Homo sapiens: one gene and its partner. The protein of the gene in region 1 interacts with the protein of each later gene in a biochemical or structural test. Each region holds a gene or a part of one and is shown in the gene's direction. Other genes may lie near its edges.

The links.
Region 2: of the proteins of FLI1 (region 1) and PRKCD, one has a biochemical effect on the other in vitro, tested with the Homo sapiens proteins (one study listed by BioGRID).

What each region holds. Positions count from the first base shown.
Region 1 is NC_000011.10:128,699,822-128,704,714, forward strand, and holds part of FLI1 (Friend leukemia integration 1 transcription factor), read left to right. Parts: intron 1-4,893. UniProt on the Homo sapiens protein: Sequence-specific transcriptional activator. Recognizes the DNA sequence 5'-C[CA]GGAAGT-3'.
Region 2 is NC_000003.12:53,167,276-53,172,168, forward strand, and holds part of PRKCD (protein kinase C delta type), read left to right. Parts: intron 1-1,427; exon of another isoform or gene 1,428-1,507; coding exon of another isoform or gene 1,508-1,545; intron 1,546-4,893.

The sequences.
Region 1 (4,893 bases):
GGTAATCTATGGAATAAACCTTTCCTGTGCAAAGCTAGCTGGCCTTATGGGAATTGGTGGTACCTCAGTCTCAGGGGCATCATAAACTGACCAACCATATGAAGGTGATTGCATGTCTGTTAGGCAGGGACTAAACTATGTTCTGTGAAGATAGAACCCCAATGGCAAAAGGGCTCTGCCAGGAGATCTAGCGAGAAGATAAGCCACATATGTGTGCCCTGCAGAGCACAGCAAGTGTTACCATAGCCCTGAGAAAAGAAAGGATGATTTGAACTGGAGAGACAGACAAAGACCTCATGATAATAGTTGTTTATGTAGTCCCTTTCATAAATCTCTTCACAGATCATACAGTCCCTCCACAGATCACTGGCCCACACACTCTTGCATCCCATTCTCACAGTAGCCCTATGGGAGATAATACCATGATGTCTCTACTTCATATGGAAGAAGTTAAAGTTCAGAGGAGTGAGGTAACTTGCCCAAGAGTATAACTAACAGGGGACAGATCTGGGTTTCAAGCCCAGTGTTTCTCATTCCTGATTCCTGCTTTTACTACACACACTGGCCACACTGCCTCTTGGCACAGGTGGATCTAAGCCTGGCCTTGAAAGATAGGTAGGTCTTGCATAGGAAACTATGGTAAAGGGCTTTCTAGGAGAGTGGAGGGTACTTTGGGGAGGAAAGTGTACAGGTGATGGAGAGGATGGGAGTGGAAAGACTGAATTGAACTAGACTACAGAGGACCTTACATACTATAACAAAGAATTTGGGGGTGAGTATGGTGGCTCATGCCTGTAATCCCAGTTCTTTGGGAGACGGAAATGGGTGGATCACTTGAGCCCAGGAATTCAAGACCAGACTGGGCAACATGGAGAAACCTAGTCTCTACAAAAACTACAAAAATTAGCCGGGCATGGTGGCACTCACCTGTAGTCCCAGCTGCTCAGGGAGCTGAGGTGGGAGGATCACCTGAGCCAAGGGAGGTCAAGGCTACAATCAGCCATGAGCGCCACTGTATTCCACCCTAGATGACAAAGTGAATACCTGCCTCAAAATAATAATAACTTGGGTCTTGTAACATGTATAGAAAGGAGGAATGAAAACTTGTGACTAGAGGGATGATCTACATAGCTGTACAAGTCTCTTAGAAACAAATCCTTCGTACTCTCTTCTCCTTAGGAAATGAAGATGGAAGTGGCTCCATCACTTATCAGAGGCCACACAAGAAATGAGCAGCAGTCAGGATTAGACAACCAGAGATAGATTCAGGCAACCAGCAGTGCTGTCTTCTGTCTTCAAAGACACCTGTTGATTAAATATGGCATTAGGGGAGGGAGGAGAAACTCTATTTCACCAGATGACATAAAACTGTGATTATCCTTCTCATCCCTTCCTTCCCAGGGGATTTCACCATGAGCAATCTTTTCAATTGGGCCTTCTATCCTGGGCTACAATTTTAGTTCCTTTTGAGAATGAGTCAGCAGATAGTGCTTGAGAGGAGAAAAAAGAAAAAAAAAAGTCTCTCTAAAACTCAAATCAAATTTCTGTGGGCCTTCAGACAAGTCTGACATTCTTCCATGAGTTGGCTGGGCCGCTGGTCTCAGTTAGGAATACTGACACTTCACCCCAGCAAACCAAAAACGCAGAGACTCATCACCGTCATTCCAAGTAGGATCAGAGATGGAGTGTTCAGACGCATTTTCAGATAATTCAGATCAACTTTACAGTACCTTCAAAATTGCTCATCCCTACAAAAATGAAGCAAACACTAATGTATTTAAGAGATTTGCCATCTTTGGGAAACAATGTGTCTGCCATTTAGTTTAAGATCAAAATCTCAGAGTATGAGAATTTTTCAAATCACCTCAAAGGGAAGGCAGACTTGAACACTGAAATGCTTTCCCAAGAGCAAGCCCCATTTACCCAGCCAGTGCTATGTGTCCAAGGCAATGAAAGATCTTATGTCACATCTCAGTGCACACATGCAAGAGGCTGGAATTACAGGTGCCATGGGAGCTTTAACCTCGAATTTCTAGACATTGTGTGGGTTTCACATGTCTACTGGAATCTAACACTCCAGTAGCAGAATTGTTAGGTCTGAATATATGGGTATTCATTGATGTTATGGGAAAGGAATCGGAGAGTGAGCAATTCTGCAGTACCATTCATGTAGCAAAAGTGTGAAAACAAACAGGTTAATATTAGAAAATTACTCTGCTCATGAGTTGTTTTAAGTTACTGCTGTTACAGTCTATGGAAAAGCGTATGTTTCAATTGAAATTCTCATGTCTACAGAGTCATTTTGTCTTTAGACATTTATGACTGAATTCATACTCATTCATGTATTCAATACTCATTCATGTATTCATTCACCCAAATGTTGAATAATATTACCAGGCACCAATCTCAATAGAGCATTCATGTAAATGAACAAGAATAAGGTTTCTATGCTATTTCTTCCAGGCTTTGAGAGAGTAGACATTTCTCTTCTTTCTGATTTTTAGCTCTGAGTATTGGAAATTCCAAAAGAAGCAATACTCATTGGAGAAATCTTTATTTGTGGCTTATAATCATAAGGATGGTTAGACACATTTTCTTAAAGGTAACAACCAGTTTATATTCTCCATTGCCCCTTCACCCTTGGTGATATAATTTACTGTAAGGATATTTTTGGAAGGCTAGGTCTTCAGCCAAGGATATTTCTTCTTCTGATTCTCCCTTTCTCAGCTTTAGTTCCTCTATTTATATATTAACATGGGGCCAGGCACGGTGGCTCACACCTGTAATCCCAGCATTTTGGGAGGCCAAGGCGGGTGGATCACCTGAGGTCAGGAGTTCAAGACCAGCCTGGCCAATATGGTGAAACCCTGTCTTTACTAAAAGTACAAAAATTAGCTGGTCATGCTGGCGCATGCTTGTAGTCCCAGCTACTTGGGAGGCTGAGGCAGAAGAATTGCTTGAACATAGGAGGTGGAGGTTGCAGTGAGCCAAGATCGTGCCTCTGCACTCCAGCCTGGGCAACAGGGCGAGATTCTGTCTCAAAGAAAAAAAAAAAAAACATGGAGAAAAATACCATAGGTAAGGTGAAAACTAAATGAGAAACGGAGAAAGAATATTTATCATACATAAAGCATAAATGTCCTATCATACAAAGACTACTTACAAATCAATAAGAAAAGACACACCACTTAACAGAAAATAGGCAAAAATGCTATGAATAGACAACACTAGAAAGAAAATACAAATGGGCAATAAATAAATGAAAAGAATTTCAAGCACATGCATAAAGACATTCAAATAAAAATAATAAAATTCCAATGTTTATGACCTAGGAGGACAGCAGAGACTAAAACAGCTTAATGTCTCATGTTGGAAAGAGTAAAGGAAATGTCACTGTCTTATCCTCTTGGTAGGAGTATGACTTGGTATAATCTTTCCACAGAGCAACATCTATTTGAGAAGTTAACTATTTACACAAATTTGATAATGCCAATTCTACAGCTATGTTCACTCAGATATATGTACAATGTGTTTATTGTAGCATTGTTTGTTACAGCAAAAGTTGGAAATAATCTAAATGTCCACCAGTAGGGGACTAGATAAACAAAGGAGGAAAGATTCATGTAAGAAAATGCCATGCAACTACAAAATGGGATAAAATCAATTGTCGTATACACTGATTTAGAAAATTCTCCAATGTATATTATTACATGGAAAAAAGCAAAAAGTTCCAAAATATTGGGCCGGGCACGGTGGCTCACTCCTGTAATCCTAGCACTTTGGGAGGCCGAGGCTAGCAGATAATGAGGTCAAGAGATTGAGACCATCCTGGCCAACATGGTGAAACTCTACCTCTACTAAAAATACAAAAATTAGCTGGGTGTGGTGGTGCATGCCTGTAGTCCCAGCTACTGGGGAGGCTGAGGCAGGAGAATCGCTTGAACCCAGGAGGCAGAAGTTGTGGTGAGCCGAGGTTGCAACACTACACTCCAGCCTGGGTGACAGAGCGAGACTCCGTCTCAAAAAAAAAAAAAAAAAAAAACAAACGTTAAGAGAGACACAGAAACAGACTTGTAAAAAGGTGAATGGGCACCAAGATTTTATCCTGAATGTGCTGGTCCCGGTGACTTTAAGATTCGAAATTGAGGTAAATGCAGGGAGAAATTGGCTGGCCTAGGATCCGGAGACCTGAGTTCCAGCCCCAGCTCTATCCCAAACTAGCTATGGGATGTTAGGCAAGTCACTTCACTTCCTCATCATTCATGTTAAAGGTCTTCTCATATATAAAATGAAGGTATGATTTCAAAATTTGCTTTCAGCTCTCATGTTCATTTGACTCTGATCCTAGACAGGCTTTAAAACATTTCTTATTTGGGGGTGTGGATGATAGAACCTCACGTAGATGTTCTATCTGATCCTGTGTGGCTCTTCTCCCATAATCTCAGGGCTACATTTTGTACTGTGGAGTGACCCTCAAGGCCAGGTGAAGGCAGGGGCTCTCAGCAGGTGCTTGGTGAGTTTCTCCGAGCTGGTTGTTTTTATTGCCAAGTGACACTAGAACTGTGCTAATCCCTTTCCGTTAATGCAAACTAAGAATAGGGCCTGACGCCACTCTGGGGTCTTAGATTCTTTTCCGAAATTTGGTCTCATTTAAAACCCAAAACACTCTTTGGCTCCAAGCGTCTTTCCCGTGGCCTTTAAAAAAATCCTGTTTAATTGAAAGGAAATTGAATTTGTCTGGTTTTGATTCATTTACACTTAACTCTTCTAAAAACAATAATTTGATGTCCAAGGAGAATTTTGAGTCTCTTAATGGGTTTTCTGGAAGGCTTTGTTTCTTCTTGTTAAAACAGGAAGTGGTGTTCTATGGGCAAACACAGTCAACCCCAGAAG
Region 2 (4,893 bases), on another chromosome or scaffold:
TGACCAGGCTTTTCACTGCCAGGGCTGCCCAGGCCTTTTTGGGGGGCTCTAGGAGAAGGGCAGGGGGCAGGTCACGAAGTCCCCTGCAGTCCCCACAACCGTGGCTCCTTTCTTGCTCTGAGCCTGTAAGCCGAGGCTCAAGAGCATCAACTCTGGTAGGCATGGCCCCCTTGAGAGAGGTGATGGCTGGGCTGCATCTTAGTGACTAGGCAGCTCCCAGCAGCTCTATGAATGAACCTGGGCAAGTGGCTCTGCCGCTCAGTGCCTCAGTCTCCCCCTGACAGATGAGATAATGATAGCATCCATCTTGATGAGGTTGTGCGGAAATGACAGATAACATATGCAAAGTAGCTGGCATCGTGCTTAGTGCATTGTCAGAGTTGAATGAGTAGAAACTGTAGTTATGTAAAGCATTTAGAGCCCAGTTCATGGGAACTATTCAAAAAATAGCAAGTGGGACTGATGAGGGGGTATTATTATCTGATGGGCTGGGCACTGGCCCAGTGTTACATGGCCAGGTGGCTGTGGAGCCTGGCTGAGGAGCCAGGTCTCTGACTCCCTCATCCCCCTCAATTCTACCTCCAGTGGCAGTGCCCTACTTGTTCAGTAGGTTCCATGCCCTCCGAGGAGAGGAGCTCCTGTTGGAGCAGCTCCACCCACTCAGCAGTCCAGCCCCTGCCTGCTCTTCTCCCCCTCACTCCCTTTCAAAGGGAGAAAATAGATCTCGTGACAAATGGATGCAGGGAGGGGAAAGGCAGTCTGCAGCTGCCTGCTGCCCCCTCAGGGCTCCCCTTGGCCCTCTCCAGCTCTGGCCTCCTGCAGGACATTAGGCTGGGAGAATTGGCTGGGAACGAGGGGGTGGACGTAAGCCCTCCTGCCAGCCTGCTTACCCTTCAGACCCCTGGAGTCAGCCTGTGGGCTGGGGCAGGGAGTGGGCATCTGGGACTGATGGAAGCTAGAAGAGTAGGGGGAGCTAGAAAACCCCCTACACCCATGGCAGCTGGGGGCAGGGCCCAGCCTGTCCCAGGGACACGAAGAAGGTCAGCACAGTTAGGGTTGGGCTAAGCATTGGCCTTCACTGTGTGGGGCCCAGAGGCTGGGGATGAGGAGTGTTGAGGAGTGGTAAGGACAGTGATGCAAACAGCAGGGGCCTGAGGGCTGGAGAGCGAAAGGTGGATGGGCCTGGGCGGGAAGTGTGGTTGAGGGTATCCTGAAGGCTTAGGAGCAGGACTTCTGCAGGCATCAGACAGACCCTGGTTGAATCCTTGCTCAATATTTACTGGCTGTGCACACTTGAGCCAGGGACTGGACCGTTCCCCACTTGCCTCGTCTGTGAAATGGGCAGATCACGGGGTGTGGTGTCCTGTGAGACATGAACGATGGGAAGGAGCCACTGTGTGGGGTGGGGTGGAGCAGGAAGACGGAACAGCAAGCCCAGAGGCTCCTAAGCGGGAAGGAACTGGCTGCTTCGGGAACTGAAAGGGGTCAGCGTGGCTGGGGCACAGGAATGAGGGAAAGGCAGCGCCTGCCCGAGAGGTCAGGGAGGTAACGGTGATGGGGAGGGGGGTGGCGGGGGGCAGGCTGCATGGAGCAGGCTGAGGGGAGGAGTCTGGGCTTGTCAGAGGGGCAATGGGAGGCACTGGGGGCTTGGGCAGGGGGTGACAAAATCTGTCTGAAAAGCCCCGTCTGGTGGCTGGAACAGGGGGACTGTCGGGCCGGGGTAGAGGATGGAGAGCAGTCAGAAGACAGGTGCAGAGCCTGGGGATGGTGGTGGTGGGAGAAGAGGATTTGAGACTTGAGGACAGGCTGCAGCGGCAGACGGGATGGCCTTATTGTGTGGGGAGCAGGGGGAGCTGTCTGGCCTGAGCCACTGCCTGAGCTCGTGCACTCCTAGTGGATGAGGAGCGCTGGGAGGGGAACGGCGGGGGACTGGTGTGGGCAGGCTTGAGCTCTTCTGGAGTCATTCATGTGGTGAAGCCAGGGAGGCAGGTGGGGCCACAAGCCTGAAGTTCAGGAGGGTCTGGGCCCAAAGTAGAGACGGGAGCCTAAAGCCAGGATTGGGGAGGAGAGGGCTCAACAGGCCTTCTAAGGGGTGGGGGAGCATTTGAGAGGCCCACGAACAGGACTGGGATGGCTGTCCCTCAAAGGTCTCTGCCAAGGCACCCAGGAGGGCAGGCTTGTGGTGGCTGAGCCGCTGTTTTCACAACAGCTCCGGAAGCTTTGGATCATGTCTATGGCCGTGTTGGGTAAACAGGCAGAGCAGAGCAGGCAGTCGCCAAGGCCTGAGGCTAGATCAGATGTCTGCGTGGTGTAGGTTGTGGGCTGGGGTTGTTGGGGTGGGAGGAGGATCCCAGGGTCCTCCAGTGTCAGGGCTGGAGAAAGCTTAGAGGTCTCCATTGTTGAGACAGGGAGGCTGGAGCCCCGGGAGGGGCAGTAGCTGGCCAGCCTCTGCCAGTGGACTCATGCTGCCTGCTTCAGCCCAGTTCTGCCCAGAGCCTCAGGCCAGAACAGGGCACCCTGCGGCTGGGGGGCTTAACAGAGCCTCTTTTCCCACTTTCCAAGGAAGTCTGGAAGACACCAGAGCACTTGGGCCAAGATCGCGGAGCACCCAGGCAGCAGATCTGAGCTAGGCCTGTCTAGGTCCAAGCTCGCCGGTTCCTCTGTCCGCTGCCTGCTGTGGGATGGCGCACCATGCGGGATGGTCCTGCCTCTCTCCCAGCTTTCTCAATATCCCCAAAGTGGGGAAGCATCATGTGGATCCTGCCCAGATCCTGGGGATGACTGGCAAAAGGGTTAGGTGGCCATCTTGCCTTCTCCCAAACACAAAACGATTGTTTCCAATGGTAAACCATCTGGAAAATCGTGGGAACTCTGTGGGAGAAAGAAGGGCTAAGGAGTAGGGCTCTTGTACTGGGGGCTGATGGAGGAGCTGTTCCCATCTCCAAACACATACCCTCACCCCATTGGAGGCCAGATGGGCAGTTCTAGGACTAGAGCTGGAAGTTCTCTCCCCACTTCCCCCTGGGTCTGCCCCATTGGCTTTGTGGCTTTGGTTGAATTGCTCAACCTCTCTTTCGGTTTCTGCACAGTGAGCCTGGAGCTCAAGGAACTTGCTCCTGGGGTGCCCGGCTTGCTGCCCTACCAACATAGGTTCAAGCCCTCCCCTCCCCCTGCGCGCCAGGCCTGTGACTGCCACCTGTGACCTTCAACCTCCACCATAGCCTCAGGGCCCTGCAGGCAGGTGGGCGGGCGGGCGGAGGCCTGCCCAGTGATGTGCCTGACCAGCCCACTCCTTCCCTTACACACTTTAGACTTTGCTCTGGATCAAGAGGGACTTTCTTCGTCTCCCTGGGTGGAAAGGCCCAGCCTAGCCTGACACCAGCTGCCCTTCTGCCCCTCCTCCATTCCCCAGCCATTGTGCCTGGGGGCTGTGGTGGAAAAAGCTGCATTTGGACTTCATGGTGCCAGACTCTAGTCAGGGATGTGGGGTCCTTCCAGGACTGTATGTTTGTTTCTGTGTCTGCCTGGAGCATCTCTGTGCCAGTGTGTACATCACAGCTTGTGGCACTCCACGTGCGTGTGGAGCCTATGTGGTCGGGTGTGGTCTGTGTGGGCCCGGGTATCTGTTGAGATGTGAGAGCCGGTGAGTGCATGTGTGTTTCTGTGTGTGTGTGTGTGTGTGTGTACGTGTGCCCCTGTGTCATCACAGCAGTGTGTGTACGTACCTGTGGCTCCAACTGTGTGCGTGTGTGTCTAATGTCGAGTGGGGCTCCCTATGTGCTGTTTGGGTTGGCGAGTGTGCCTGTGTGCACACGTGTGGTTATTCGTGGAGAGGCCCGGCTGCATCCCCCACCCTGGCTCCTCACAGAGGCCCCTTGTCCTCACAGGATCTGGCTCTCTGGCTCCTGCCATGAAGGGGCCTTTGTTCCTCTCTCAGGGGTACCTGGGGCACCGCCCTCTGACTGAGCCCAGGACTCCTCATATCCTAGGGCTGGCTGGTGACTCGAGGCCTGTGCCTGGTGGCCTCCCTCCAAGGAGGCCCTACCCCACACAAGCTGGCAGAGGTGGATGTGAGCCGATGACAGCCAGGCTCCCAAGTCCTGCCCCTCTGAACCTTCCAGACCCTCTGGCAGGGCAGGCCATTATGCTCCTGCTGACCCCTCAGATCGAAGGCCCCCAGCCAACAGGTCCCTGCAGCCTCCGTTCTCCTCCAGCCCCCCTCACTCCCTGCTACTCACTGCCTGCGTGGCGCATCCTACAGAGGTCTTACCATCCTTTGTAATCACATATTTATGTGACTGGCTCCCACCAGGCTGTAAGTTCCATGGGCCTGGTGTGGCAGAGGTTACCAGTGGGAAAGCAGCTAGCTTCCTGAGAGGTGGGAAGGGTCCCCCAGGGCCAGCCTTCTGAGCTGCCTGGAAGGATCTGTGGGAATTCAGAAGGCTGTTCCAGCTGAGGGAACAACATCTGCAAAAATATGGGGGCTGGGAAATGAGACATATGTTCACAGAGTAGCCAGAACAGGGATTGAGGTAGAGAGCAGGACAGGGCCAGGGAGTGGGCAGTCTGGAAGGCCTGGAGAGGTCTGGGCTTTCTCCAGGGGCAGTGAGAGCCTAGGAGGTTCCCAGCTGTGGGAAGAATGGGTAGGGGAGGGACCAGAGATGGTGACAACCGGGAGGGAGCTGGGTAAGGGGAGGAGAGGCCACAGGTACTGGTTGGTCTGTGTGGGGTGAGGGAGGGGCCCAGGAGGAGCGCTGGCTGGGGGATGAGGTACCTGTCCTGGGAGGAGCAGGTATGGGGAGCATCCCTGCTCTGGGACTTGGCTGTGACCTGAGTCCATAGATCTGGTTCTTATCTCAGCACAGGGCTGGGCATGTGGAGGCTGGGGGATGG